Homo sapiens: one gene and its partners. The protein of the gene in region 3 purifies or fractionates together with the protein of the main gene of each other region. This does not show direct contact. Each region holds a gene or a part of one and is shown on either strand. Other genes may lie near its edges. The genes, in order: ZC3H14, ACTR6, SRSF11, TPBG, PNISR, SHCBP1 and GDA.

What was found.
Region 1: the proteins of SRSF11 (region 3) and ZC3H14 purify together in Homo sapiens (affinity purification with mass spectrometry; one large-scale study listed by BioGRID and IntAct). This does not show direct contact.
Region 2: the proteins of SRSF11 (region 3) and ACTR6 fractionate together in Homo sapiens (co-fractionation; one large-scale study listed by BioGRID). This does not show direct contact.
Region 4: the proteins of SRSF11 (region 3) and TPBG fractionate together in Homo sapiens (co-fractionation; one large-scale study listed by BioGRID). This does not show direct contact.
Region 5: the proteins of SRSF11 (region 3) and PNISR fractionate together in Homo sapiens (co-fractionation; one large-scale study listed by BioGRID). This does not show direct contact.
Region 6: the proteins of SRSF11 (region 3) and SHCBP1 fractionate together in Homo sapiens (co-fractionation; one large-scale study listed by BioGRID). This does not show direct contact.
Region 7: the proteins of SRSF11 (region 3) and GDA purify together in Homo sapiens (affinity purification with mass spectrometry; one large-scale study listed by BioGRID and IntAct). This does not show direct contact.

Annotation. Positions count from the first base shown.
Region 1 is NC_000014.9:88,622,037-88,625,066, reverse strand, and holds part of ZC3H14 (zinc finger CCCH domain-containing protein 14), read right to left. Parts: 3' UTR 2,464-3,030; coding exon of another isoform or gene 2,349-2,463; 3' UTR 98-2,348; coding exon of another isoform or gene 1-97. Other genes in the region: EML5 (echinoderm microtubule-associated protein-like 5), read left to right, coding at 1-97, 2,349-2,463. UniProt on the Homo sapiens protein: RNA-binding protein involved in the biogenesis of circular RNAs (circRNAs), which are produced by back-splicing circularization of pre-mRNAs.
Region 2 is NC_000012.12:100,221,315-100,224,814, reverse strand, and holds the end of ACTR6 (actin-related protein 6), read right to left. Parts: intron 1,030-3,500; coding exon 900-1,029; 3' UTR 391-899; downstream 1-390. UniProt on the Homo sapiens protein: Required for formation and/or maintenance of proper nucleolar structure and function. Plays a dual role in the regulation of ribosomal DNA (rDNA) transcription.
Region 3 is NC_000001.11:70,227,880-70,231,379, reverse strand, and holds part of SRSF11 (serine/arginine-rich splicing factor 11), read right to left. Parts: intron 2,959-3,500; coding exon 2,825-2,958; intron 668-2,824; exon of another isoform or gene 1-667. UniProt on the Homo sapiens protein: May function in pre-mRNA splicing.
Region 4 is NC_000006.12:82,362,607-82,366,616, reverse strand, and holds the start of TPBG (trophoblast glycoprotein precursor), read right to left. Parts: upstream 2,801-4,010; 5' UTR 2,709-2,800; intron 2,374-2,708; exon of another isoform or gene 2,288-2,373; intron 1,995-2,287; 5' UTR 1,656-1,994; coding exon 393-1,655; 3' UTR 1-392. UniProt on the Homo sapiens protein: May function as an inhibitor of Wnt/beta-catenin signaling by indirectly interacting with LRP6 and blocking Wnt3a-dependent LRP6 internalization.
Region 5 is NC_000006.12:99,422,509-99,426,710, forward strand, and holds the start of PNISR (arginine/serine-rich protein PNISR), read right to left. Parts: upstream 2,801-4,202; 5' UTR 2,707-2,800; intron 2,607-2,706; exon of another isoform or gene 2,363-2,606; intron 1-2,362.
Region 6 is NC_000016.10:46,614,880-46,618,379, forward strand, and holds part of SHCBP1 (SHC SH2 domain-binding protein 1), read right to left. Parts: intron 3,494-3,500; coding exon 3,326-3,493; intron 2,871-3,325; coding exon 2,755-2,870; intron 1,276-2,754; coding exon 1,067-1,275; intron 1-1,066. UniProt on the Homo sapiens protein: May play a role in signaling pathways governing cellular proliferation, cell growth and differentiation. May be a component of a novel signaling pathway downstream of Shc. Acts as a positive regulator of FGF signaling in neural progenitor cells.
Region 7 is NC_000009.12:72,225,940-72,229,439, reverse strand, and holds part of GDA (guanine deaminase), read right to left. Parts: intron 1,498-3,500; coding exon 1,400-1,497; intron 1-1,399. UniProt on the Homo sapiens protein: Catalyzes the hydrolytic deamination of guanine, producing xanthine and ammonia.

The DNA of each region.
Region 1 (3,030 bases), on a different chromosome or scaffold from region 3:
TGTGTAGAATCGTGGCGAGAGCTCACAACGGGCCTGTGTTTGCCATGTACACCACCCTGCGAGATGGACTTATCGTGACTGGGGGAAAGGAAAGGCCGTGAGTCCTCTTTCTTTTCACAGAATATTTATGCATTTGTGACCTACCTGAGGTTTGCAGTTAATTATTCTAGTTGTTTCTAGGCTACACAGAGTGTCCTCTCCGACCTTCCTCCTCATATGCTTCTCCTTTATTACCTTTTATGTGCCTTCTATTTGATTCTCATTTCTGGTCTTAATTCACTTCCAATTTTTTTCATGTTGGGGTGATACTTTTTCTGAGGTGTGGATAGGTAGTTGTCCTACAAGTTGAGTTACTTTTCTTAATGTCTGTATGCCTGTGTATGATTTGCTGAGTAGGAGGCCCATGGGGGAATCTGGAGCCAGGGTTGTATTTTGACTGCCTGCTCTCTTTTTGTTCAGAATGGATTCTAAGGAGTAGAATGCACATTGTTGCTTTAGAAAAGGATGAGGGAACTAGAGAGAACTGCCTTGTTTCCTTTTGCTTGAGGCAAATTTAAACTGTTTTATACAAGACCTCAAAATTTGAGAAGAGGTCTCTTCTGAGTGATTTTCAAATCTCCCAACAGTAACCAGATACTTATGATTTGATTTGTCACCAACATAGTCATATGCATGTTGAAACATGACATGTAGGCCAGGCACAGTGGCTCACACCTGTAATCTTATCACTTTGGGAGGCTGAGGCAGGTGGATCGCTTGAGCCCAGGAGTTCAAGACCAGCCTGGGCAACATGGTGAAACCCCATCGCTATAAAAAACAACAATTAGCCGGGTGTGGTGGCACATGCCTGTAGTCCCTGCTACTCAGGAGGCTGAGGTGGGAGGATCACTTGAGCCTGGGGAGGTCAAGGCTTTAGTGAGCTGTGATGGTGCCACTGCACTCCAGCCTGGGTGACAGAGTGAGACCCCATTTAAAAAACAAAAACAAAAACAAAAAAAAATGTGACATATAGTTGACTAAGAAGTACATTTCAATACAGGATTGAAAGAACCCACATATGTTAATTAAACACAAGCGCAGAATTTGTGCCTTTTACATAAAGGAAGAATGCACATAGGCATGCTTTCAGACAAGCAATTCATCTAGCAGAAAAGGAAGGAATACATTTTTCAGCCCTTCCAGGAATAAAATCCATAAATGGGCTCTATTTCGTCCTCCAACACTTGTATTTCCCACGTCATTTACTCCTGCACACCCCCACTCACTAGAAGCCTGCTAAACTGTTCCAGTGAGATATTTTAACACCTGATAGGGAATAAATATGCTTCTGTTTTGGCCTTCAAAAATAAGCTCTGGGCCAGTTGCAGTGGCTCACGCCTGTAATCCCAACACTTTGGGAGGCCGAGGTGGGCGGATCACGAGGTCAGGAGTTTGGGATCAGCCTGGCCAATATGGTGAAACTCCATCTCTACTAAAAATACAAAAATTAGCCAGGCATGGTGCCTGTAATCCCAGCTACTTGGGAGGCTGAAGGAGAAGAATCGCTTGAACCTGGGAGGCACAGGTTGCAGTGAGCCGAGATCACACCACTGCACTCCAGGCCAGGTGACAGAGCGACACTCTGTCTCAAAAAAATAAATAAATCAACTCTGTAGCATAGCATTTGTAATTCTATTATTTTGCCTTACATTTCCATTATCCTTTTAATAAAATTGTTTTTTTACATCTTCCTAATCAAGAAGTATTATGAGGCCAGGCACAGTGGCTCATACCTGGAATCCCAGCACTTTGGGAGGCCGAGGCAGGCAGATCACCTGAGGTCAAGGTATTTGAGACCAGCCTGGCCAACATGGTGAAACCCCATCTCTACTAAAAATACAGAAATTAGCTGGGTGTGGTGGTGCACACCTGTAATGCTAGCTACTCGGGAGGCTGAGGTAGGAGAATCGCTTGAACCTGGGAGGCAGAGGTTGCAATAAGCCTAGATCATGCCACTGCACTCAAGCCTGGGAGACAGAGCGAGACTACATCTTAAAAAAAAAAAAAAAAGTATTATGAGAGAGGATAATGTATTGTAATGTATTGTAGAGGCTAAATAAAATTATGCTCATGTCAGAAAAAAAGAGTATTTCTCAAAATAAAATTCACTGAAACTGGATGTTTATTTTGACTGAGATATAGTATATCCTCAAATTGCCATAGAAAGTTTACAAGAATATTAGAGGTAAATTATAAATATCAGGGCCTTTTTAAAAAAAAAAGATTCTGCTTATAACTTGGTATTTGTTTATAATAAAAATTATAGTAGCCAATAATGAACACTTACTCTGGCTTGGTTATTTACTTAGGTCAAAAGAAGGAGGAGCGGTTAAACTGTGGGATCAGGAACTGAGGCGGTGCCGTGCCTTCAGGCTTGAGACAGGACAAGCCACAGATTGTGTTCGTTCTGTGTGCAGAGGCAAAGTAAGATGTTCCATGAGCTGATACAGTGCAGCAGAAAACAGAAAGTGGTTATTACTGTGATTCCCTCACCCTTTGCAGCCTAATGAACAATACTTAATAATGCATAACGATGGATTTGCTTGCCAACATTACTCTGTCTTTGCTGCTTTCTTTGCCAAAGTTAGCACCAGTGTGGTGCATAAGCTAGGAAGCTATTCTGTCTAAATACTGTATGTAAACCTCCAATATTTTCTAGAATCTGCCAATTTAACAACTCTAGTAGACATAATTGAAAGCCCTTGGCAGTTGACTCATATTAGGACAGCTGTCTCCATTTTTTAAAAAAACACACATTCCCTAGATAAAACGTGCAGTAAACAAACAATGAAATACTACTCAGCCATAAAAAATAATGAAATTCTGTCATTCTTGGTGGCAACATGGATGAGACTGGAGGACATGATGTGAAGTGAAATAAGCCAGGCACAGAAAGATAAATACATGTTCTCACTCCTGTGCAGAAACTAAAAAAGTTGATCCCACAGAGGTGGAGAGTAGAATAGTGGTTACTGGAGGCGGACAAGGGGG
Region 2 (3,500 bases), on a different chromosome or scaffold from region 3:
GCTCATGCCTGTAATCCCAACATTTTGGGAGGCCAAGGCGGGCAGATCACTTGAGCTCAGGAGTTCAACACCAGGCTGGCCAACAAGGTGAAACCCTGTCTCTACTAAAAATACAAAAATTAGCCAGGTGTGGTGGTGGTGGCACACGCCTGTAATCCCAGCTACTCGGGAGGCTGCGGTAGGAGAATCGCTTGAACCTGGGAAGCGGAGGTTGCAGTGAGCCAAGATCACGCCGCTGCACTCCAGCCTGGGTGAGAGAACAAGGCTCCGTCTCAAAAAAAAAAAAAAAAAAAGTTCTTGAACAACCCTGAGTTAACTTCAAATCTCTTTTCATTCATCCTAAAAAAAATAGTACTTTTATGAGTGAAATAAGATATTCTGCCCACACAGTAGTGGCCAAAAAAACTTTATTAGCTTAGTCTCCACCCTTTTAAATGTACTCTAGGTACAAAATAAACATTATACACATATAAGATCAGTCTTTCCAACTTTAGAATGTATAAATAAGAATGACATTTTAAAATAAAATAGTTTAGTCACAGTCACACAAAACTACCTTCTAAGGAAAACTGTCCAGTGAAGCCGTTAAATTTGTGCTTTCAGCTATGAAGAATTAAACTTAAAATGCATTCATTCTTCTTTTAATGAAAAATAACCTACCCTTGGAAACAGCATAAGCATTGTTATGGTAGTCTAGCTCCTAAATGAAAATGTGGACTGAGTTACAGTTTACTGTAGTAACCTACCTAAGAAGCCTTTGAAAATTAGCAATCGATCAAAGTATTTACATAAATTCAAGCCTTTTTCTTAGGACAAAAGGTAACACAGTTCCTTAACCTCTTTTAAAAGGAACTTTGAAATTAAACCTTATGGTCACAACTTTCATTCAAAAATGTTGCTTAAATATCAAATTTCTCTTCACAGACGCTATGTCCATTTTCTTCGTAATCTTCTCTTGTTACCACCATATCTTCAAAATCATCATTCTCTGATATCAATTTTCCACCTTCCCAGGCATAAGTAATAGGGCTGAAAATAAAGGTATAAATGAACCCAGATGATTTTACAGGAAAACTGAAATGCCTGAAACATAAATTACTATTAGGTTGGTGCAAAAGTAATTTGTGTTTTTTTTGCCATTAAAATGTGGCAAGCTCTACCCAACCCAACAGAAAATTGTTTAAGGTACAGAAATAAGCATACATTTCATATGAGTAGAGCAACCCAAAAAGGAAAGGAACCTTGTTTACCGCTACAAAATAGTAAATGTTCCTTTTTCCCTATGTCCTGAATTTATGGACCCTCTAATTCTAAAGAAAAAACAAGGATATAAGCAAAAGATCAAAAGATGCCTAAAAGGAAAAACTGTCATACTGAGTCTAAATTCTGTATGTGGCAAAGATATGTCATCTCAATAATTCTCATAGCAACTCATAAAATAGCTATTACTCCCACTTTCTTTCTTTTTTTTTTTGAGACGGAGTCTCACTCTATCGCCCAGGCTGGAGTGCAGTGGCACGATCTCAGCTCACTGCAACCTCTGCCTCCCAGGTTCAAACGTTTCTCCTGCTTCAGCCTCCGAAGTAGCTGGGACTACAGGCACATGCCACCACACATGGCTAATTTTTTTTGTATTTTTAGTAGAGGTGGGGTTTCACCATGTTGGCCAGGCTGGTCTTGAACTCCTGACCTCAGGTGATCCACACACCTCGACCTCCCAAAGTGCTGGGATTATAGTTGTGAGCCACCACACCCAGCCTACTCCCACTTTCTAGATTTGAAAAATGAGGCTCAGAGAAGTTAAGTCTGGAACTAGAATTTAGGCTGGAACTAGGATTTAACTCAGAACTGTTTTCACAGTCTGTGCTTTTGCTGATAGACTTTGTTGCCTCTAATAAATGAAACAGAAAACATAGTGTATGATAAACAATTATGTGGGAAGACACAGACAATAGGTAAAATTAGAGCAGGTAAAACATCTAGTTTGGTTTTGCTATCTACAACCAAGGTTATACTATGTGTTATGACTCAATTCTGTTTCTACTATTCTTTTTCCCCAGTTTAGAGTTTCAAATCTGAAAAAGGTAAAGAAAAATGTTAAATCAATATTTTCTAGCCAAGTATGATGGCATATACCTGTAGTCCTAGCTACTTAGGAGGCTCAGGCAGGAGGATTGCTTGGACCCAGGAGTTCAAAGTTGCAGTGAGCTATGATCACACAAGTGACAGAGGGAGACTTTGTCTCTATTAAAACAAAGGTCGGTTATGGTGGCTCATACCTGTAATCCCAGCACTTTGGTAGGTCGAGGTGGGAGGACTGCTTGAGCCCAGGAGTTCAAGACCAGCCTGAGCAACATAGCAAGATCCCATCTCTACCAAAAATTTTAAAAATTAGCCAGGCATGGTGGCTCATGCATGCAGTCCCAGCTACATGGAAGGCTGTGGTGAAAGGATCACCTGAGTCCAGAGGTCAAGGGTGCAGTGAGCCGTGATCATACCACTGCACTCCAGCCTGGTAACAGAGCGAGACTGTGTCTCAAAAAAAAAAAAAAAAAAACCCAAAGCCAGGCGCAGTAGCTCACACCTGTAATCTAAGCACTTTGGGAGGCCAAGGCAGGCGGATCACAAGGTCAGGAGTTTGAGACCCGCCTGGCCAACATGGTGAAACCCCATCTCTACTAAAAATACAAAAATTAGCCAGGCATGATGGCATGTACCTGTAGTCCCAGCTATTCGGGAGGCTGAGGCAGGAGAATCGCTTGAACCTGGGAGGCGGAGGTTGTGGTGAGCCAAGACTGCGCCACTGCACTACAGCCTGAGCAACAGAGTGAGACTCCATCTCAAAAAATAAAAAAAAAATTGAAAAAAATTTTAAAAACCCCCCAAAACACAACTTGGCTGGGCTAAGGCAGATTACTGAGCCCAGGAGTTGGAGGCCAGCTTGGGTGAAACAGTGAGACTCCATCTCTACAGCAAAAAAAAAGGTTTTCTTTTCTTTCTTTTTTCCTTCTTTTTTTTTAGAGACGGGGTCAAACACTGTTGCCCAGGCTGGAGTGCAGTGACGCAATCCTAACTGACTGTAACCTCAAACTCCTGGACTCAAGCCATCTCCCTACCTTGGCCACCCAAAGTGGTAGAATTACAGGTGTGAGCCACCAAACCTGGCCAATAAATGTTTTATTGTATTTATATTTGCATTAAGCTTTTATAAAAATAGATTTATATATAAGTATACACATATATTTATACATATATAAAAGCAGTAGACGCACAATAAAAATTTATTTAATAAAATAATAAGACCTATTTCTGTGGATCCCTTGGCCTGTAATCTGTGCATGCAAGAGAAAAAGCCAATATGCTTTATAGTCTTAAGAACATATGAACATTAGTGGTGATAAAAATCATCCCAATATTTTTAAATTGTTTATTCATTTATCTCATAGCTATAAAAGAAAGTGATACCAATGAGGGCCTTCTATTAACTTGCTGATTTTGGA
Region 3 (3,500 bases):
TGTAGACAATTTAAATTCTATCCAACAGCAAAAGCCCTATACAGATGGATTAATCTGTTAATGTGCCCAAGCCCCCAAAATGAGAGTTCAATAATACAATTAAACTACATATTTGCAAATACCAGTAGTATTTCTGTAATACATATTAAGAAACTGCATCTCATCATAAAACATACAATATGTACAGGGCACTTAAGAGAAACTGGATAAGCTGCAGAAGAAAACTGTTGGGTGGTATTTTCAGCAGGGCCTGGTATATAGTTCAGGCTGAACCAGGGAAAAGAACTGTAAAACACAACAACAAAAAAGAAAAACCACTGTTAAATAAAGGTAATGGTTCCTTCCACCTATACTGAGAAGTGCCGATAATATAAACAAATGTATACTACACAGCACTGTTATCTTGCTTGTGTCAGAGCTGTCATCAATTTAGATACCAAGAGTTATGGAGGGGAAGGGGGAGAAGATCATTTAGATATAGGGCAGTAATGCATCAATATTAACAAACCTACAAAGATTATGGGATAATTTTGCATGCAAAATTATGTCTCAAGAGGATATATTCAGTATCAACATCTTACTCAAATTAGTGCATTTGCAACATTTCTGGCAAACTAAAATCCTCTTGAATTTATTGTGAGACACCTGATAGAAGATCTGCATCCATTAAAAAAAAAAAAGTCATGCATCTGATCCTCTGATTAAAAAAAGACTATTTAAAAATAAAACTACAATTTAAAAATAGCAATGAGGCCCCTCACCAGTTAATTTTCATGCGTCAAGAGTATTTTTTTTACTGCTGCTTTGATAGAACCATGAAATACTGCATGAATGTGTAGAAATGAAAGAAAAAGAAACAGACAAAAGAAACAAACATTAACCAAGGAACCTAAAAAATCCCCAAATCCATTACTATTAAGAGTTCCTTCCAAATTCAGCTATCTTAGTTTTACCAATTAAGACTATTCCTTACCGTAGACTATGTCTACTGTTCTAAAACACTGACCAAGAGCTAACACCGAAGTGTAATAGCTAAATCTGGAGGGAATTGTATTTACTGGAGGTAACATTAATACAGCATATCATACCAGAATTAAATTCACCAACAATAGAATTCTGAATGAAATATTCCCCTAATTCTATATACTGTATATTCCTAAATACTTCACTTCCAAAAATAGGTCTAGAAAAATTACTATGGCCTGAAAATATTTATGAAAGTCATTTATATGATATACTGTATTATGTTCAGGGATTGGGAACTATAATACTTAGCCAATAAAAAATTTAAATTTACAGGCTAACCAAAATGTTTTACATATTACTCACATGATTTGACCCTTGTTCCAAGACCTATACTCTATTTTATTCATCCTGAATTTGAATTCTGTAAATTTTCTGTTGATGGTCTTATCCTACAACAGGCACACTGACATAAAAGAAATTGCTTAACCAAAACACACTAACTCAAAAATTTATCTATCTATACATTACAAAACCTTAAAACTGGGCTCATACACTTTAATATCATGGAGACAGAGGTACTATTACATAACATGTCTTAACCCATTTATAAATATAAGTTAATTTCTTTAGAAAACCAGAGGCAACTTCTCTGTTAAGGACTAGACATTTCACAACTTTTACAAGGTATGGTGTAAATGCTCACATTTGTTTTCAAAGATTTCAGATAGCATCTAAAATGAACAATATTAAGATTCCACTTCCACTGACCAGTTTATTAAGGAAAGGGGAAAGCATTTAAATCCTGGTCAGCATATTAAATTATTAACTTAAAATCCAGCAGTTTTATCATATTTCAGTGATTCGAGTAAAATTTATAGTTACCAAAATGCAAATCAAGTAGCAGTACATTGGGAACAAACTAATTATAAAATACGCCTTAGAAAATTTTACAAAATGGTATTAAAATTTCTTGTCACAGTGGCTTTTTAGATCCAAAAAACCTGCTCATTTTTTTCTGTCAAATTACTTTAACAGCCTAAAATGTAAAAAGAGAGAAAATGTAGTTAACAAATGGTTACACCAGGAAAACACTTGGGGCACTTGAGTGCTTGCTGGCCTTTAGTTAATGTCTAGAATCCCCTGTAGCTGCAGAGGACCCACTGTTTTTCAGGCATCTGGAAGGGTTTTGCATTTGCCTTCTCCACTATAAAAATCACACACACAAATAACAGAGAGAAGAATTTATTATTTAGAGATATTCTAGAAATATAGCAAGAATGAACAAGAAAATCTGGCATAAAATAAAACACCCAGTGCCCATTTGGCACCTAAGCTACAGGAAATCTTGAACTTTCACGAAAACCAAAATCACTGCAACCCTTGGTATACTGAAATTCAATGTGTTTTTTTTTTTTCCAGATTATCAATGTGAGGAAGCTTTAAGAAAATAAAATCAACCTACTCATTTATTTAAAACAGAAATAACATCATGCATTTATTTGAAGGCTCTGTAAGCATACATGGAGTGAATCATTTACCTTCAGGGCTTTTTCATAAAACTTAACATTAAATTAACTAAGTAGATGTATCTCAGGGAGTTACAATAAGGGACATGGTTTTAAACAACTTAAAAATGTTTTAAAAGAAAACAAAAGGTAAATACCTTATAATAACAGACCTAATTTCTAATTTTTAGAATTAAAAAAAATCTGCAAGCAAAAATTACGGACTGCAGTATAACAAGGGTTTAAAAATGTTAATAGCTTAGATTTAACATGCTACTAATGCTCACTCTACATCTACTGAGGTAGATGGTCATCTTAGGATGCCCACATAGGTAGTTAAACAAAGCACAAACCTTCTGCATATGGTACGACTATCAAAGCTCTGTCAACGAATACAGTGTTTGTCAGATGCTGTGCCACAACTGCTGAGTCTGGATCATGGAACTTAACAAAGCAGACACGAGATGAGACTGGCAAAGGCGAATCACTAAAAAATAAACAAATAACATAAAAGAGAAACAGAATAGCAGTTAAAACAAATGCTAATTCACAAACCAACACATTTCAAAAGTAAAACAGATTAAAAAAACCTAACTGTATACTAATGTAGTTAAATTCAAAAGAAAACATTCTCAATCATATACTGTTCACTGAAATAATGTAGTGAATTGCAGTTCAGATAAAAACTTATAATCATAACTTATATTTACAGTGTATCAGGTTAAAAACAATTTGGTACTGAAGTCTCAGAGACTGAGGGGACCACAAAATTGTCAACAGTTTCTTTATAATACCAATACCAGCTATTTTTAGATACAGGTAACAGTAGTTTGGGGCTTAGAAACTTCCTAATGGCTTTCTCAGAGTAAGAAAGATGAACAATTTTTATATCAGGGACAAATGAATATCATGAGAACGAACATGTACTCAATAATCAATGAGTTTTCTTGAACTGCATAAAATAAACAGGTTCCATGCCCTGCACTCTTTTACCCACAGCATGTAAGAACTCTTATGCACTGTAAATAA
Region 4 (4,010 bases), on a different chromosome or scaffold from region 3:
TTATGAATAAAGTATTTTTCTCGAAAAAGTTGAGGCAGCTTTTGTTGAATGCTATCTGTGTGGGTACACTTGCTACACCTTGAACTGTACTGAGAGAGAGACAGACAGCAAGAAGCCCATGTTCATGCTGAAACCTGAAAAATCCCTCCATACGTGTTGAGGAGTTCCAAGAAAAAGAAGAGGGTAAAACACTATACACAACTGTTCATCGTCTTACATTAACAGAACACACCGAGAAACTTTACATAACAAGGAAGCAAATCCCCTTCACTGCTTTTAGTCAAAGTCCGTTGTATCTATAGTGGAGGATGAAAGTGGAGCAAGCCTAGTAGGGATAAAGCTTAAGTCTACATCTCATGCAGAGTTGTCCTTGGTCTGTCCTCTAATATTTCTCAGACATCCGAGTTAGAACTGAGGTTCGTTAATCTGGGGTCCGCATTGATTTCATATCTGTAATGATACCCTTCCATGTGATCCCTGCAGGCATCTCTGATGTTATGCATCCACTTTTTTATCCCCTTGCGGTTCAAATACAAAACCAGGAGGAAAATAGCGCCTATCAGGGCTAAAACAATACCCAGGAAGACATAAGAGGTTTGCAGGGATGGGGGAAGAATCGGGTCACAGTCCAGGTCAGCACTGTTGAGTTCCAAGAGGACCCGATTCCTCATTTTTTCCGGATATGCACAGGTGAGCCGGTCTTTGCCCTGCACTACCTCTGTTTCCTTGAGCCAGGTCACCATGTCTGCCATGTGGCAGTCGCAGACCCAGGGATTGTTGTCCAGGAAAACCCTAATGTGGGGTAGACCTTGCAACTCAGCCAGGGTGCCATTGTGAAGGACCTTGAGGGCATTGTCCTCCAGGTGGAGGCTTTCTAGATGTGTCAGGTTGCGGAAGGACACGTAGGTCAGGCTCACCAGCGAATTATTACTTAAGTCCAGGTGCCTGAGGCTGGGCAGTTGGGCCAGCACATCCCGCGGCAGGTAAAGGAAGTGGTTGCTGGCCAGCTCCAAGCGGCGGAGCCCCTGCAGTGCACGGCCCGCCAGCAGGGCCGCCACCACCATGCCCTCGAAGCTCCGGTTCTGCCGCTCATCTTCAGGGGGCACGATGTGGTTCAGGATCAGTTCCACAAGGGGACTGGGGGCCGAGACGCTGGCATTGCTGCCCGAGAAAGCGAAGGGACTGAGGTCGGCCAGTGGGTTGTGGCTGAGGTCGAGCTGGCGCAGGCTGGGCAGATGCTCGAAGGCGCCCGCGCGCACCTCGTCCAGGCGGCTGCCGCTGAGGTTGAGCGCGGCCAGCTCCGCCAGCGGCGGCCGGCGGGCGAAGGCGCCGGCAGGGAGCACGGCCAGCTGGTTGCCGGTAAGGAAGAGGTTGCGCACGTAGGCGGGCAGGTCCGTGGGCACCTCGGTCAGATTGCGGTTAACGCACTTGACTGTGCGCGCTGCCTCGGAGCACTCGCACAGCGCGGGGCACTGGTCCGGCAGCGGGGGCTGGGCGGACACGGCGGAAGCCAGGAACGGCGCCGAGGAGGAGAAGGAGGATGCCGAGGAGGTGGGAGAAGACGAGGAGACCCAGCCCAGGAGTACCAGCGCTAGTCGCGCCAGCCGCAGACGCCCGTCCCCGGCGGCGGGGCCCCGGGAGCACCCCCCAGGCATCGCGGCTCGCGTTTCCCCGGAGCTGGGCTGGGACGGCGCCCGCTCCGAAGGCTCGGGAGGCTGGGCCCGGAGGGCGCGAGCCGGCGGAAGCGTCTGGAAAAAAAAAACTTTCCTCTCGTGGAACCGAGGGAGTGGCGCCGCAGCCGGAACTTGGCTAACCCCCTCGCCACCGGGCGCTTCCCTCAGGGGCCGATTCCCCCGCCCCTTCCCTCCAGAAAGTACGCACGGCGGGTCGGGACGCTCCGCTCCGCGCTCCTGCTCCCGCTCCTCTTCCTGCCGCCGCCCTGGTGCCACCTCTTCGCCTCTTGTTGGCGCCCCTCGCTGGATCCTCTGAGGGACCTGGGACAAGCAGGAGAGAGGCGTGAACAGCGGTGGCTGCCGCGGCTTCCGGAGTGCAAAAACCGGCCTTTTCGAGTCTAGTCGTCTCCAGTCTGTCCCAGAGACCTCCTTCCAAAAGCCCGCCCCGGCCTCGCCTCCCCAACCCCTCCGGTCACTTTTACTCCGGAGGGGGACGCGCATCCGACACCCAGACCGCAAAGTCTTCCTTCTTCCCTGGCCCACACTAAATAAACCCGACCGGCCTCCCGCCCTCCGCCTTTCCCGAGGAGACTCGTCTCCCGCGTCTAACTTACCGCTTAATCCCCAATTCCTTCCCTACCAAACTTCTCCCTCTCCCGTTCCTTCCTGCACCGCCTCGGCGGAAGGTCGGCCTCCGGGTGTCTCCGCCCCCGCCCAGACCTCTCCACCAGGTCCCGGTTAGGATGCGAGGGAAGTTTCAGGTTACAGGACTTTTTGATCTCTTTTTGTACCTTCTCGCATTAGCAGGAAGTGGAGCTACAACTGTCGCCCCCCAGCCCGCGCCCCGCCAGCCCCTCGGATCTCAAAGGGGTTCAAGTCATCTCCAAAGAGGAGGGGAGAGTCTGGGAACAAAGCAGCAGTGGGACTCGGGGTACAGTGGCAACCCGAACCAACCCTACTCTCCACCCGAGGATGGGGAGGGGCCCCAACGACGCCTCCCGGGTCTCTCCCAGGCCGCGGGCTCCCACTGCTCACCTCCGCGTCCGCCGCCTCCAGAACCAACTCTGAGTTCCACCAGAGTAGCGACGACTTCCCGGCTCCGCGTTGCGGGCGCCGACTCTCTTCGCACCCCAGCCCCTGGCCCAACCTCCCAACCTCCGCAGCTGGGAAAAACCAACCCGGGGGGCGGGGGAGGGCCAGGACTGTCGGGGAGATTCCCGACGCGCGGCCAACCTCGGCAGCCGTAGGTAGGGGGATTTAAGAAGAGAGACTAGGGGAGCTGGGCTGCGCGCCTCCTCCTGGTGGAAATTAACGAGGAATGTGCCGGAAAAGGTGAGGGAATCCCTTTCTCTCCCCCCTCCCCGACATCCTTGGGTGGTTCCTCATTTTGCATACTGTATTTACCTTGGACTGGAGCAAAACCGCTGGTGAATCTCGTGGAATTCACCCTGATTCAGGCACCTTTGGCAGTGACGAGATAGATTTAGGCATGACAGAGCAGCGCGAAGCAGCAGCAGAAAGAAATGAGCTGAAAATCTACTGCGGCAGCAGCAAAGGCACGGCAGGTTGTATGGAAGCTTCAGAAGCTCTCCCCATCAAAGTGGTACTTGAGGCCGCAAACTTCAGATTTAGGTGTAATTAATGCCTTCCCGCCTGTCCCCCCCGCCCCCTCACTTCTTGGGTAGTGATGGAACTTGTGAAGAGAGCGCGCCAACTTTAAGAGAGAGAGAGAGAGAAAGAAAAAAAAAAGATTAGTGGAGAGGAGATTCATTCCTGATTCATTAGCTTTTCTCTTACCAAAATTAAAAGCAGATGGAAGAGAAAGGCAGCCAAAGGCATCCCAGAAACAAAAGGCAAATAGCAAAGACTTGAGTCTCCCGGAAAGCGGACCCGCCCCCCTCCCCAGATGTAGCGCGGTGTGTCAAGTCACTTCTGTGGAGAAAGCTCCAAGGATGAGGAGTGGGGATTGCAGGAGCTGACCTGGGAGAGAAGTTTGGTTTCAAAGTCGATTGTCCCAGGGGGCATCTGGCAGATGGTGATGGAGAGGATGGGGTTGGGGAGAGGGACAAATTGAATGGTTGGTTACCGGAAGGATCTGTTATTATACCAGACAGGTTTTGGGTTCTGAAAGCCCTATCGTTGCTCTCTGTAACTCCACATCCCCTTTGTCCCAATTAAATAATTTCCCCGAAGGGATAAGAAGGTTCTTCCAGGCTTCTTCATTTTAGAGAGAAAATGGCAATTAGGGAAAACATGGTTCGGAAATTTAAGACCTGGTCGTATTAAAAAAGATCAAATAAGGATCCTGAGGCTTGTGCCTGGGACATGTGCCTTTAG
Region 5 (4,202 bases), on a different chromosome or scaffold from region 3:
TTTTGCTACTTTATGTGACATGCATTTTAGTATATACTGAAATACTTGCAGCTTGTAGCTCAAAAGACTATTTTAAAAGTGGAGGACAAGCATGGCGGCTCATGCCTGTAAACCCAGCACTTTGGCAGGCCAAGGTGGGTTCATCACTTGAGGCCAGGAATTCGAGACCAGCCTGGCCAACATGGCGAAACCTCCACTCTACTGAAAATACAGAAATTAGCTGGGCATGGTGGCATATACCTGTAGTCCCAGCTACTTAGCAGGCTGAGGCAGGAGAATCACTTGAACCCGGGAGGCAGGGGTTGCAATGAGCCAAGATTGTGCCACCACTGCACTCCGGTCTGGGAAACAGAGTGACACTCTGTCTCAAAAAAAAAAAAAAAAAAAAAAACTGGAGAATTGGAGAGTCGGTTATAAATACCCCCCCAATAATAATTTAAAAATAAATGTAGCGAGAGCGCCCAAAATGACACCCTAGTAGCAACAAGCACACCTAGGCACGAGAACTTGGTTTTAATACCATTCTTCAATAAAAGGAATCAGAGATCTTTAAAGAAATAGCTGACTCTAGGACTGCGACAGGAAATATAAAAGATGAGTCTGGGGCATGTATACTGCCAGGAAGCAATAAAGTGCTAAAAAAAAAAAAATTGATAGGAACATGTCAAAGGAGAACAGTAGACAACTCGAAGAGCTGCCAATGGCCAAAGCTGGTACAATTTGAGCAACAAAATAAAGAAGTACTGGATTATAATATAAGTTATGTAATAAACATCCACAAGCCCATAAGGATATGATAAAATAAACTAACAAATAAATGTGAGGGAAGACACAAATCTCCCACAGAGAATTCCAAATAAATTATGTAAATATTCCACCCTAACTGAGGAAGAGCACAACTGTCCATTCAGTAAGCGTGGGCTCTGCAAAGTGACTTCCTTCCAAAGAGAACAGTATAAAAAGGGGTGGGGGAAGTAACTTTACAGTGGATAAATCTAACAAACGCTACTCCAGAAGGATGATCAAGGTCAGTAATAATGTGATAAGTCACCTTGATAGTATGTATCCTTGATAGCATGTGTTGAAAAGGGCATCTTACCTCTGTGATCTTCCCCTGATATAGTCCGTAAGGCCATTTTAATCATGAGAAAATCGTCTGGCAAATTCCAATAGCAGGGCACCCTACAATATACCTGACCATACTCCTCAAAAAATGTCAAGGTCACTGTATTAGTTTGGTATGCTTGCCATAACAAAGTACCAAAGACTGGGTGGCTTAAGCAACAGAAATTTATTTCCTCACTGTTCTGGAGGCGTATAGTGTAAGCTCTATGGGGTTGATTTCATTCTAAGGCCTCTCTCCTTGGCTTGTGGATGGTTGTCTTCTCCCTATGTCTTCACATGATCATCCCTCTGTATCCTACTCTCTTCTTATAAGGACAGCAGTTATTAATATATTGGGCTAAGGTCCACCCTAGTGACCTCATCTTCTTTAAAGACCCTCTCTCCAAATACAGTCACGTTCTGGGGTACTGAGGTTAGGACTTCAAGATACGAATTTTAGAGGGGCACAAGTCAGCCCTTAACAGTCATCAAAAACTAGTTAAGCCTGAGAAACTGTCACAGCCAAGAATATACAGCCTAAGAATATACAACAACTAAATGTAATGTGATATCCTAGCTGGCATCCTGGAACAGAAAAAGGACTTTAGGTAAAATGTGAGGAAGTAGGAATAAACTATGGACCTTAGTTAATAATTTATCATTATTGGTTCATTAGTTGCAACAAATGTACCATACTAACATCTATTAATAAGAAGATAAACTGTGTGTGTAGTGGGGACGTCGTATGTGCTCAACGTAAACAAAAACTGTTCTAAAACATAAAGTCTATTAGTAAGTTAAAAAAAAAAACTCTCAAGAACATCTTTAAAGAACTGTTTTCTCTATAAGCCCTTTGCCACTTTACAAAAAAATTCCACAAGTAAAATCTTTAGTAGTCTGGTTGCTGTTGTTTTCGCCCTGCTGCACTCAAATGAGGAATTCTAAGTTTATTTTGTTTTACTTGGGGGCAGGGGGAAGTAAAAAGATGTAAAAGATTAATGTTGAATTAAAATCTTAAGCTAGAATGTTAATTTAACAACCCACAAACAAATTTGTCTAATGCTCAATTTGTTCAGATGACGATACTATCCACCACAGGGTAAAAAACTGAAATATTGGATACTACCTTTAGCGAAGCTTAACACATAATATCCATCATTGGGTAAGAACACACGAAAAACACAAACTAAGGAACTGCGCCTGCGTAGTCAGAGCCTCAAAGGGTATAAGCTCCAGGTCGCGAGCCCCCGCCTCCTCCGCCCCCATGAACCCCCTTCCCACAAGGGGGTTCCCACTGCGCACGCGCAGTGTTTAACGGCCGGTCAGGAACCCAACAATTAGTCCCTTCTCGTCCGAGAGGAAACTCTGTGAGAAGATGGGACCGTGAGCACTCTCTTTAACAAGGACATTTCCTTTTCAGCGAAAGCAGCGCTCTGATTTACCAAGTCTGGCGGACCGCAGCGCTTTAAAGGAATGAGGTTCCAGCGGTCGCGCCAAGCAGCGTACGCAGCCTATTTTAAGTTATGCTACCTTCGCCACAGAAACCAAGAACGTTGTAATGGTCCGGCAAGTGCCCACGTATAATTGTTCTCCATCACTTACCCACTCTAGTTCGGGAACACCCTTGTCGCCGCCGTTCCGGTAACACCTCTCCAACGCTTTCGATGCTTCTACTTCTTCGGGAACAAGACAAGATGGCGCCCGATTTGTCTCACCCGGAAGTAAAGAATAATAACATCCGTTTGTCATCTGAAGCCATACCATCTCTCATCCAGGTTTGTGAACACGTGATTGTGCGGATTGACATGTTTCGGCGCCATTTTTTTTGTGGGCAAAACCATCTCTACTCTGGTCAACACCGGGCAACTGAACCATTCCTGCACGTTACTTTTTAACGTAGCTGGCGCCATTCCCGACCCATCTTTATAGTGGCCAGAAAGCCAAGAACGTAAGTGTTCTACACATAGGGCGCCTTCAAATTTTTTACTTTAGCAACGTGATCTTCCTTTAAGGGGAAGTATGTTCCCTCCTAGAAACACTCCCGCCTTGGAGAAGGGGTTGAGTTCGCAACTCCACTTACAGACTACGGAGGAACCCCAGGGTCAAACCAAACCAAACCAATTCTGGCCAGTTGCTTAGCGCAGTTCAAGTTACTTAGTGCGCTGGAAGCGGCATTTCAGGCAATCCAACTTCTGGCTCGAACCTTCTCGGAGTATTCCAAGGATGGAATACTCTCACTTGAGCGCTGCCGAGGGTGCCGCTTGAGGAAAACGTGAGTTTGTGAAGGTGAGCAGTCTGGGTCGGTAGCGAAAGCGGAGACCTTAGCTGACCCCGCAGCTGTCTTTCTCTTTGTTAACCTCAACACATCGCGCCCCCTTCCGGGAACACTTGCTCTTCTCTCCTTGGCTTAACTAGTCCCGGTTTTTCATTCTTTATCCGTGACTTTTAGGGAACCGTGGGGGGGAAGTCTGGTTTCCGTCCTGCTGCTTTCCTTCAACTACAAGATGGCTTCTCAAAAGGACGCATGCAATGCCATTCCTCAAAGACAGTATGTTGATTTCACAGTGTTTTTATATGAACAACGTTCAAGTGTCAAAAGTATCAATTTCCAGGCTAGGAGCTACAAGTTAAAAGGAAAACAAAAATGTTCCAAAGATACAGTGTTTATTAGCTACATCTTGGGAAGTGCCTTTCCAGAGAGTAACATGAAAACTTCTGCGTGACAAAGTGCACGAAGTATCTGAATTATTTCATTGGGCAATTGTCGTGCAAAAGAAATAGCAAATTACCGTAGAAACAAAATAGTAAGAGCACAGCTAGATGGATAAAGATACAGATGTGAAAATATAGATGCCCTTTGCATGAAAATTCAGTTTTCCTCAGCACTAGAGACCCAGATACTCCTGAATTAGCATTATAATAAAGTCGTCACTAGCTAACCATCTGCCTTTCCTCCAATCCACGGACGTGGTCCTCAAAATAACATTTTATCTTGTGAGAAACCTTCATTAATTACACCTAACAACACCATGACGCAGGTTCATGAGGATACTACTGAAGGCAAAAGGAAATCCCTATTTCTCTGACCCTTTCCCTAA
Region 6 (3,500 bases), on a different chromosome or scaffold from region 3:
AAACCAAGTAAAAGATAAACAGGAATTCTTTATACACTTGACCCTTGAAGAACACAGGTCTGAATTTTGTGGGGTCCACTGATAATTTACACTGAGTGTGCCAGCATCTCCTGCCTCCCTTTCCACCTCTCCTCCACCTGTTTTGCCTCTGCCGCCCCTGAGGCAGCAAGACCAATCCCTCTTCTTCCTCTTCCTCCTCTGGTGAAGATGATGAGGATAAAGACCTTTATGATGATCCACTTCCACTTAATGAGTAGTAAATACATTTTCTCTTCCTTATGAATTTCTTAACATTTCCTTTTTTCTAGCACTTTATTATAAGATAATACACATAACATAGAAAATATGTCCTAATCAACTATTTATGTTAATGGTAAGGCTTCTTTTCTGGTCAACAGTAAGTTATTAGTAGTTAAGTTTTGGGGGAGTCAAATGTTATACTCAGATTTTTGACTATGTAGGGGTGGGGGGAGATAGGCACCCCTAACCCCCACATCATTCAAGAGTCAACTATACTAGTTTTGTCAGCTTTTCTATAAGTTTGAAATTATCATAAAATGATTTAAAACATTTTTAGACCAGGTGCACGGTGGGTCACACCTGTAATCCCAGCACTTTGGGAGGCCAAGGCAGGTGGATCACCTGAGGTCAAGAGTTCGAGACTGACCTGGCCAACATAGTGAAACCTCATCTCTACTAAAAATACAAAAATTAGCAGGACATGGTGGTGCACACCTGTAATCCCAGCTACTCGAGAGGCTGAGGCAGGAGAATTGCTTGAACCCAGGAGGCGGAGGTTGCAGTGAGCCGAGATCATGCCACTGCACTCCAGCCTGGACAACAGAGCAAGACTATGTCTCAAAATTAAAAAATAAAAAAAAAGATTTAAAACATTTTTAATTTTTTTTAATTTAAAAAAGATTATCCTATCTTTGGATATTTTTAAATATTGCAATGACCAAGTTTACAGTTGAGTTTTAAATCTGGGTCTAACACAGACCAGAATTACTTCATTTCATCCAAAGTTTCTGGCCACAAGGTTATTTTTCTCAACTTCTTTTCCTACCTGACATGCTCAATTGCAAGGGCTGTCTGGTCAAACACTCCTGAATCATCAAACACCACCCACAGCTCCTGCAGGGGCAACCGATGCTCCTTCAGATCAAGGAGCTCCTTCATGCACTCCATGGTAAAAGTGCTCACTTGAGAGTCACAGAGGTATGGTTCAGCAAGCCTCACCACTGCCTTCAAGGCTGCAAAGTCCACATCTGTGATCTGAAATTTAAAATAATGTGACTTAACACATGGAAATCAAAATGAAGATACACCTATAAGACACTACTGACAACCTGATTTTTTTAAAAGCATACAACATGGGTGGGGAGGCTTTACCCATAATATAAAGGATGAACAAGACAGGCTGCCTCTTACCCTCATGGAGCTTACACTGTAATCAGGGAGATCAACAAACACAATGATAACCAGTAGGTGACAGAGAATAACTAGCAGGGGTGGGGATCTTGTTCTGCTGAGATGGGCAAGGAAGTCAGCTCTGAGCCAGGCTGAGGAGGATGAGAAGGAAGCGGCCATCTGAAGAGCTGGGAAAGCACAGAAGGCCTGTGGCAGAGACAGGCTTGGCAGCTGGAGGAGCGGAAAGGCAGTCCTTCTTGCTGGAGCCAAAGGGAGGAAATGGAGGAGGGGGGCGGTGTGCAGTGGAGCAGCAAGATATGAGGTGAGAAAGAGAGGCAACGAGACCAGGACATGAAGGACATCTGAAGGAGCTTGGATTTTAAGTGTTTTCTATACAATGAGAAGCCATAAAGCCAACACTAAGCCCTTGGTAAAGACAATATCTTAGGAGTTTTAAGCAGAGAAATGGCATGCTTCTGTTTTAAAACAATGACTTTCATTGTTTTCGGAGAACTGATTGGCGGGGGGGCACTTATCATAACCAAATGAATAGGCCTGAACTTCAACCAAAAAATATTAGCACAATCCAAAATTTTAAAACTCACAAGCAATAGCTGCAATCCACTGCCTTGTACATAATCACTGTAGTATGTGATGCCATTTTCTAAGGGAGCTGCAGCAACAACTTGTATTCACACTCCCTGGTTTGACATTTTAGTTTACTAGGGCTTTTTGTGGTCAGTTAACAAACACTGAGAAAAATTCAAAGCTGTAATTAGAATGCAAATGTAATCTAAAAGGCCTAGTGAGAAGAAGAATAAGACTGTTTTTACATTCTGCAATGGGACACACTGTCAAGAGATTAACCACATATAAACAAATTTGCTAGGCAAAAACTGGGCTAGTTTAAAAATGCCTCTTAGCAGAGGTTGCAGTGAGCCGAGATCGTCCCACTGCACTCCAGCCTGAGCAACACAGTGAGACTTCATCTTAAAAAAAATAAATAAATAAAAATGCCTCTTAGGTTTGAGCTGCTTAACGAATTACAATTAAGAAGTTAAACACTTTTTTGAAACCATTAACTTCATAATTAGGCCTAATTTTTTAAGTGATCTCAAATACCTTCTTTTAATTAATTTGAACCAGTTTAATTCCCTGGTAACAACTCCTCAGTTGCCTTTAAAATTTGCAGAACACTTCCTACAACATGGCAATTAGATGTGAAAAACATGCTATTTGAATCAGCTCATAAACTTTAATTAAAAATAAGCACTTTGGATATAACAGTCTGAAGTAAAGTGCTTAAAGCTAGAGACAAAGGTCTAATAACAAAATTAACCTTACCTCAACCAGCACCTTGAACACATTAGTGTGCCAGACTGCCCGCCATCCAGATGGCTCAAGGACCTTCTCCAAGAACTCAGCTGTGAATTCCTGTACCTCAGAGGCCTTGCAGTCAGCTACAAACAAATTAAACACAGGAAGAATTGAGAATGCATAAAGCAGAGGGAAGTTAATAAATCCACTTTCTCAGAAACAACTGGCAATCTGAGGGACTGAAATAGATAATCTACTTGCAAACTAAAAAGATAAAAGATGCAAAAAACCAGCCAGGCAGTGGCTCATGCCTATAATCCCAGCACTTTGGGAGGCCGAGGCAGGGGGATCACCTGAGGTCGGGAGTTCAAGACCAGCCTGACGAAAATGGAGAAACCCCGTCTCTAGTAAAAACACAAAATTATCTGGTGGTATGGCGCATGCCTGTAATCCCAGCTACTAGGGAGGCTGAGGCAGGAGAATCACCTGAACCTGGGAGGCGGAGGTTGCGGTGAGCCGAGATCGCACCATCGCACTCCAGCCTGGACAACAAGAGCGAAACTCCATCTCAAAAAAAAAAAGCAAAAAACCTACTCACCTAAAATGTAATCTTGATAGGCTCTGAATCGCTCATAGAACAAAAGTTGATTTGTTTGGAAAATTTCTGGGAAAAAGGTTTTTCCTTCTGGCATAAAACTTTGTAAACTAGAACCTGGTTTATCACGGTAGCTACAATCACTGCATGAATCTTCATCTTGGAACAAACCTAAAAA
Region 7 (3,500 bases), on a different chromosome or scaffold from region 3:
ATGATACGATCTTCACTGACTTCTTTCCCTTCCCTGTTTTACTTCCCTGAAGGTTTTGTTTGTTTGTTTGTTTGTTTTGTTTTGTTTTTGAGATGGAGTCTTGCTCTGTCGCCCAGGTTGGAGTGCAGTGGCGCGATCTCGGCTCACTGCAAGCTCCGCCTCTCGGGTTCATGCCATTCTCCTGCCTCAGCCTCACGAGTAGCTGGGACTACAGGCGCCCGCCACCATGCCCGGCTAATATTTTTTTTTTTTTTTTTTTTTTTTTTTTAGTAGAGACTGGGTTTCACCGTGTTAGCCGGGATGGTCTCGATCTCCTGACCTCGTGATCCGCCCACCTTGGCCTCCCAAAGTGCTGGGATTAGAGGTGTGAGCCACCACGCCCGACCCCTGAAGTTGTTTTCTGAGATTACAGCCACAAGCATGGGTTTTTAACCTAGCATCCATGGACTGGCATCATGAGATCTATGAATTCCCTGAAATTAGATGCAACACTTGTAATATCCATGGGCTTTTTTCCCCTGAAATTACAGGCTATAACTTATTTATTTTTCTGAGACAGAGTCTCACTCTGTCACCCAGGCTGGAGTGCAGTGGTGCAATCTTGGCTCACTGCAACCTCCGCCTCCCGGGTTCAAACGATTCTCTTGCCTCAGCCTCCTGAGTGGTTGGGATTACAGGTGCCTGCCACCATGCCCAGCTAATTTTTATATGTTTAATACTGATGGGGTTTCACCATGTTGGTCAGGGTGGTCTTGAACTCCTGACCTCAAGTGATCTGCCTGCCTCTGCTTCCCAAAGTGCTAGGATTACAGATGTGAGCCACTGCGCCCAGGCAATAACTTTCATTTTATTCATTTACGGATCCATCACCTTTCAAAAGGTTAAGAACCAGTTAATAAATAACACCTCTGTATTCTGGGGAATTATAATAGGACAAGGTCCTCCTGGGCTTGCCTGTGTGGGCTGGCATTCCGTCAGGTCCAACAGGGTAACATACATCATAGTGCATTTGCTTTGGTATTGCTGTGTTTCCTTCTCACACTACAGCACAAACAGTAATGGGAGTGACTACCCTCTTCTGGATTTCCTGGCTGACATATGGGTTCTTTCAGTACTTTCACTGTAAATTTTTTATGTTGTATTCCCTATTGTCCTTTTTTTGTACAAACTCAGAGATTTCAGAAGATGCTGTGCTCTTCACGTGTCCTCTGAGATAAATGTCCTCTTACGTGTTCTCTTTTACTCCTCAACAGCACGAGTAAATGTCTATCTATCTGGGTCCTGCCAAACACAGAATAGAGGGGAGATCCTGGAGGAATGACAGAGGAAACAAAGGCATTTGGCTGCTAATCTGCAACCCAATCATTCGTAATCTACCAAACAATCATTGTCTACTTACGATAAATTAGAATTGGGACAGTGTGCGATGGATGCTCCTCGTTCATGGAATACGTTCAGTTCTTCTGCAGAGAGGTAGCAGCCGTGTGCCATCACTGTCTGGAGAGAAGAGTGCCCTACGTGGAGTTTACCGCTCACAAATGATTAAGTGGGTACTCACTCACAAGGTATTTTAGAGAGAGACCGAAGCTGTAGCTTGGCTGTTAGCATCTTCACAAGAACATTTATGATGATCTATATGTACAAAGTTGCTAGGTACAAGTTATACCTTAGAAAAGGCCTGTAAACACATTGTCTTACGAAAGTCTCAGGAAATTTGTGGAGTTTACTTAGATTCTTTTTGTTGATCTATAAAGTAATGAGGGTTTGGTCCAGGTGATCTACAGCACAGAATATCCATCCAGATGGAAGATAACATGATTTTCTCATCTCTACTTTAGAAGACTGTCAAGTTACTTTCTTTTCTAAGTTTATATGGGAAGCAACTGGTAGTGTTGTGCTTGCTCCAATTCTAAAAAAACTTTCTAGAACTAAAAGTCCCTTCTCAGTATGTGAAAGCTGTGAGAGTAATCCTGCAAAGCGCTGTTCTTTATTTCTGCTCCTAGCTTCAATGTAAGTGCCAATGGCCTTGATATTTTCAACTAAATAAACTTTTAACTCACCTACGTTTATATTTTCATAAAAACTAGGAAATTTAACATCTTATAATCATTAATTCAGAAAGTAAAATTGATCCAAGAAAGCAGGCACTGCACACACATGAGACCTCTCTAAATTTTTAATGTTGGTAGTATTTATTTGTAGATTTTCTTAAATAAGACTTTACTCTTTCAAAATTATTTTTCTCTCAGTACAAAACCTGTACCCAACTTGCTTTCCCCTTTGAGAGGCACGGTTCAGTGACTACAGAATTATTATTTTTCTGAGACAGAGTCTCACTCTGTCGCCCAGGCTGGAGTGCAGTGGCGCAATCTCGACTCTCTGCAAGCTCCGCCTCCTGGGTTCACGCCATTCTCCTATCTCAGCTTCCCGAGTAGCTGGGACTACAGGCGCCTGCCACCACGCCTGGCTAATTTTTTTGTATTTTTAGTAGAGACGGGGTTTCACCGTGTTAGCCAGGATGGTCTCGATCTCCTGACCTCGTGATCTGCCTGCCTCTGCCTCCCAAAGTGCTGGGATTACAGACATGAGCCACCAGGCCCGGCCCAGTGACTACAGAATTATTATTAAAATATAACTTTCCCAATCTCTGTTCAAATAAAATTAACATGCAAATGGAAGGTTAATTTATTAATCATATGGAAAATATATAAAGAATGAAAACTATGGTGTAGCTTTTACATGATTTATGCAAAGTATTAACCTTTTAAATCAGTTATATTCATATCTCCATTCACACAGTCACTAAGAAATTATTTGCTATGGTAAACTCTCCATGCGGTTTGTACATTTCATTGAAGGCCAAGGCCAAGTAGTACATTATTGTAATGAGGTCTCTTCACACATATTAATTTTAATTATAGGAGTAATGCATACTCATTTTTTAAAAGCACTCTCAGAGTATTTAAAAATAAAAAGCAGAAAGTCCTTCTGGTTTGTCCCTCAGGAAGAGTCATTTTTAATACTCAAGTTGTGTCTTTCAGACAGTTTTTTTCTAAGTAAGCATGCATCTATACATATGTACATACACATCAAATAATATTACACAAACATTCTTCCTTGTAAGCCTGCATACCTCTTTCTTTGTGAATGCTGGATAAAATCCTATGTATGCTCTGTAATTTAATCCCTCACCGATAACAATTTTTAAACTTTAATATAAAATTAGCATCCCTATTCATATTACTTAGAGTGAATTCTTAGAAATGCATCTGCTGACTCAAAGAAATGTAGGTTTACATTCTAATAGATACTGTTAAAATGTCCTTGGACCAAATGACATTCCCATCTTCAATGAAGCCTTTACATTTAATTCACTAAGATGAAACTTCGGGTCCATTTTTAACTACACACACACACACACACGCACACACACACACACACACACACACACTAGGCTTTACTCTAATTTAAGAAATGTATACACATGTACCCCATAGATA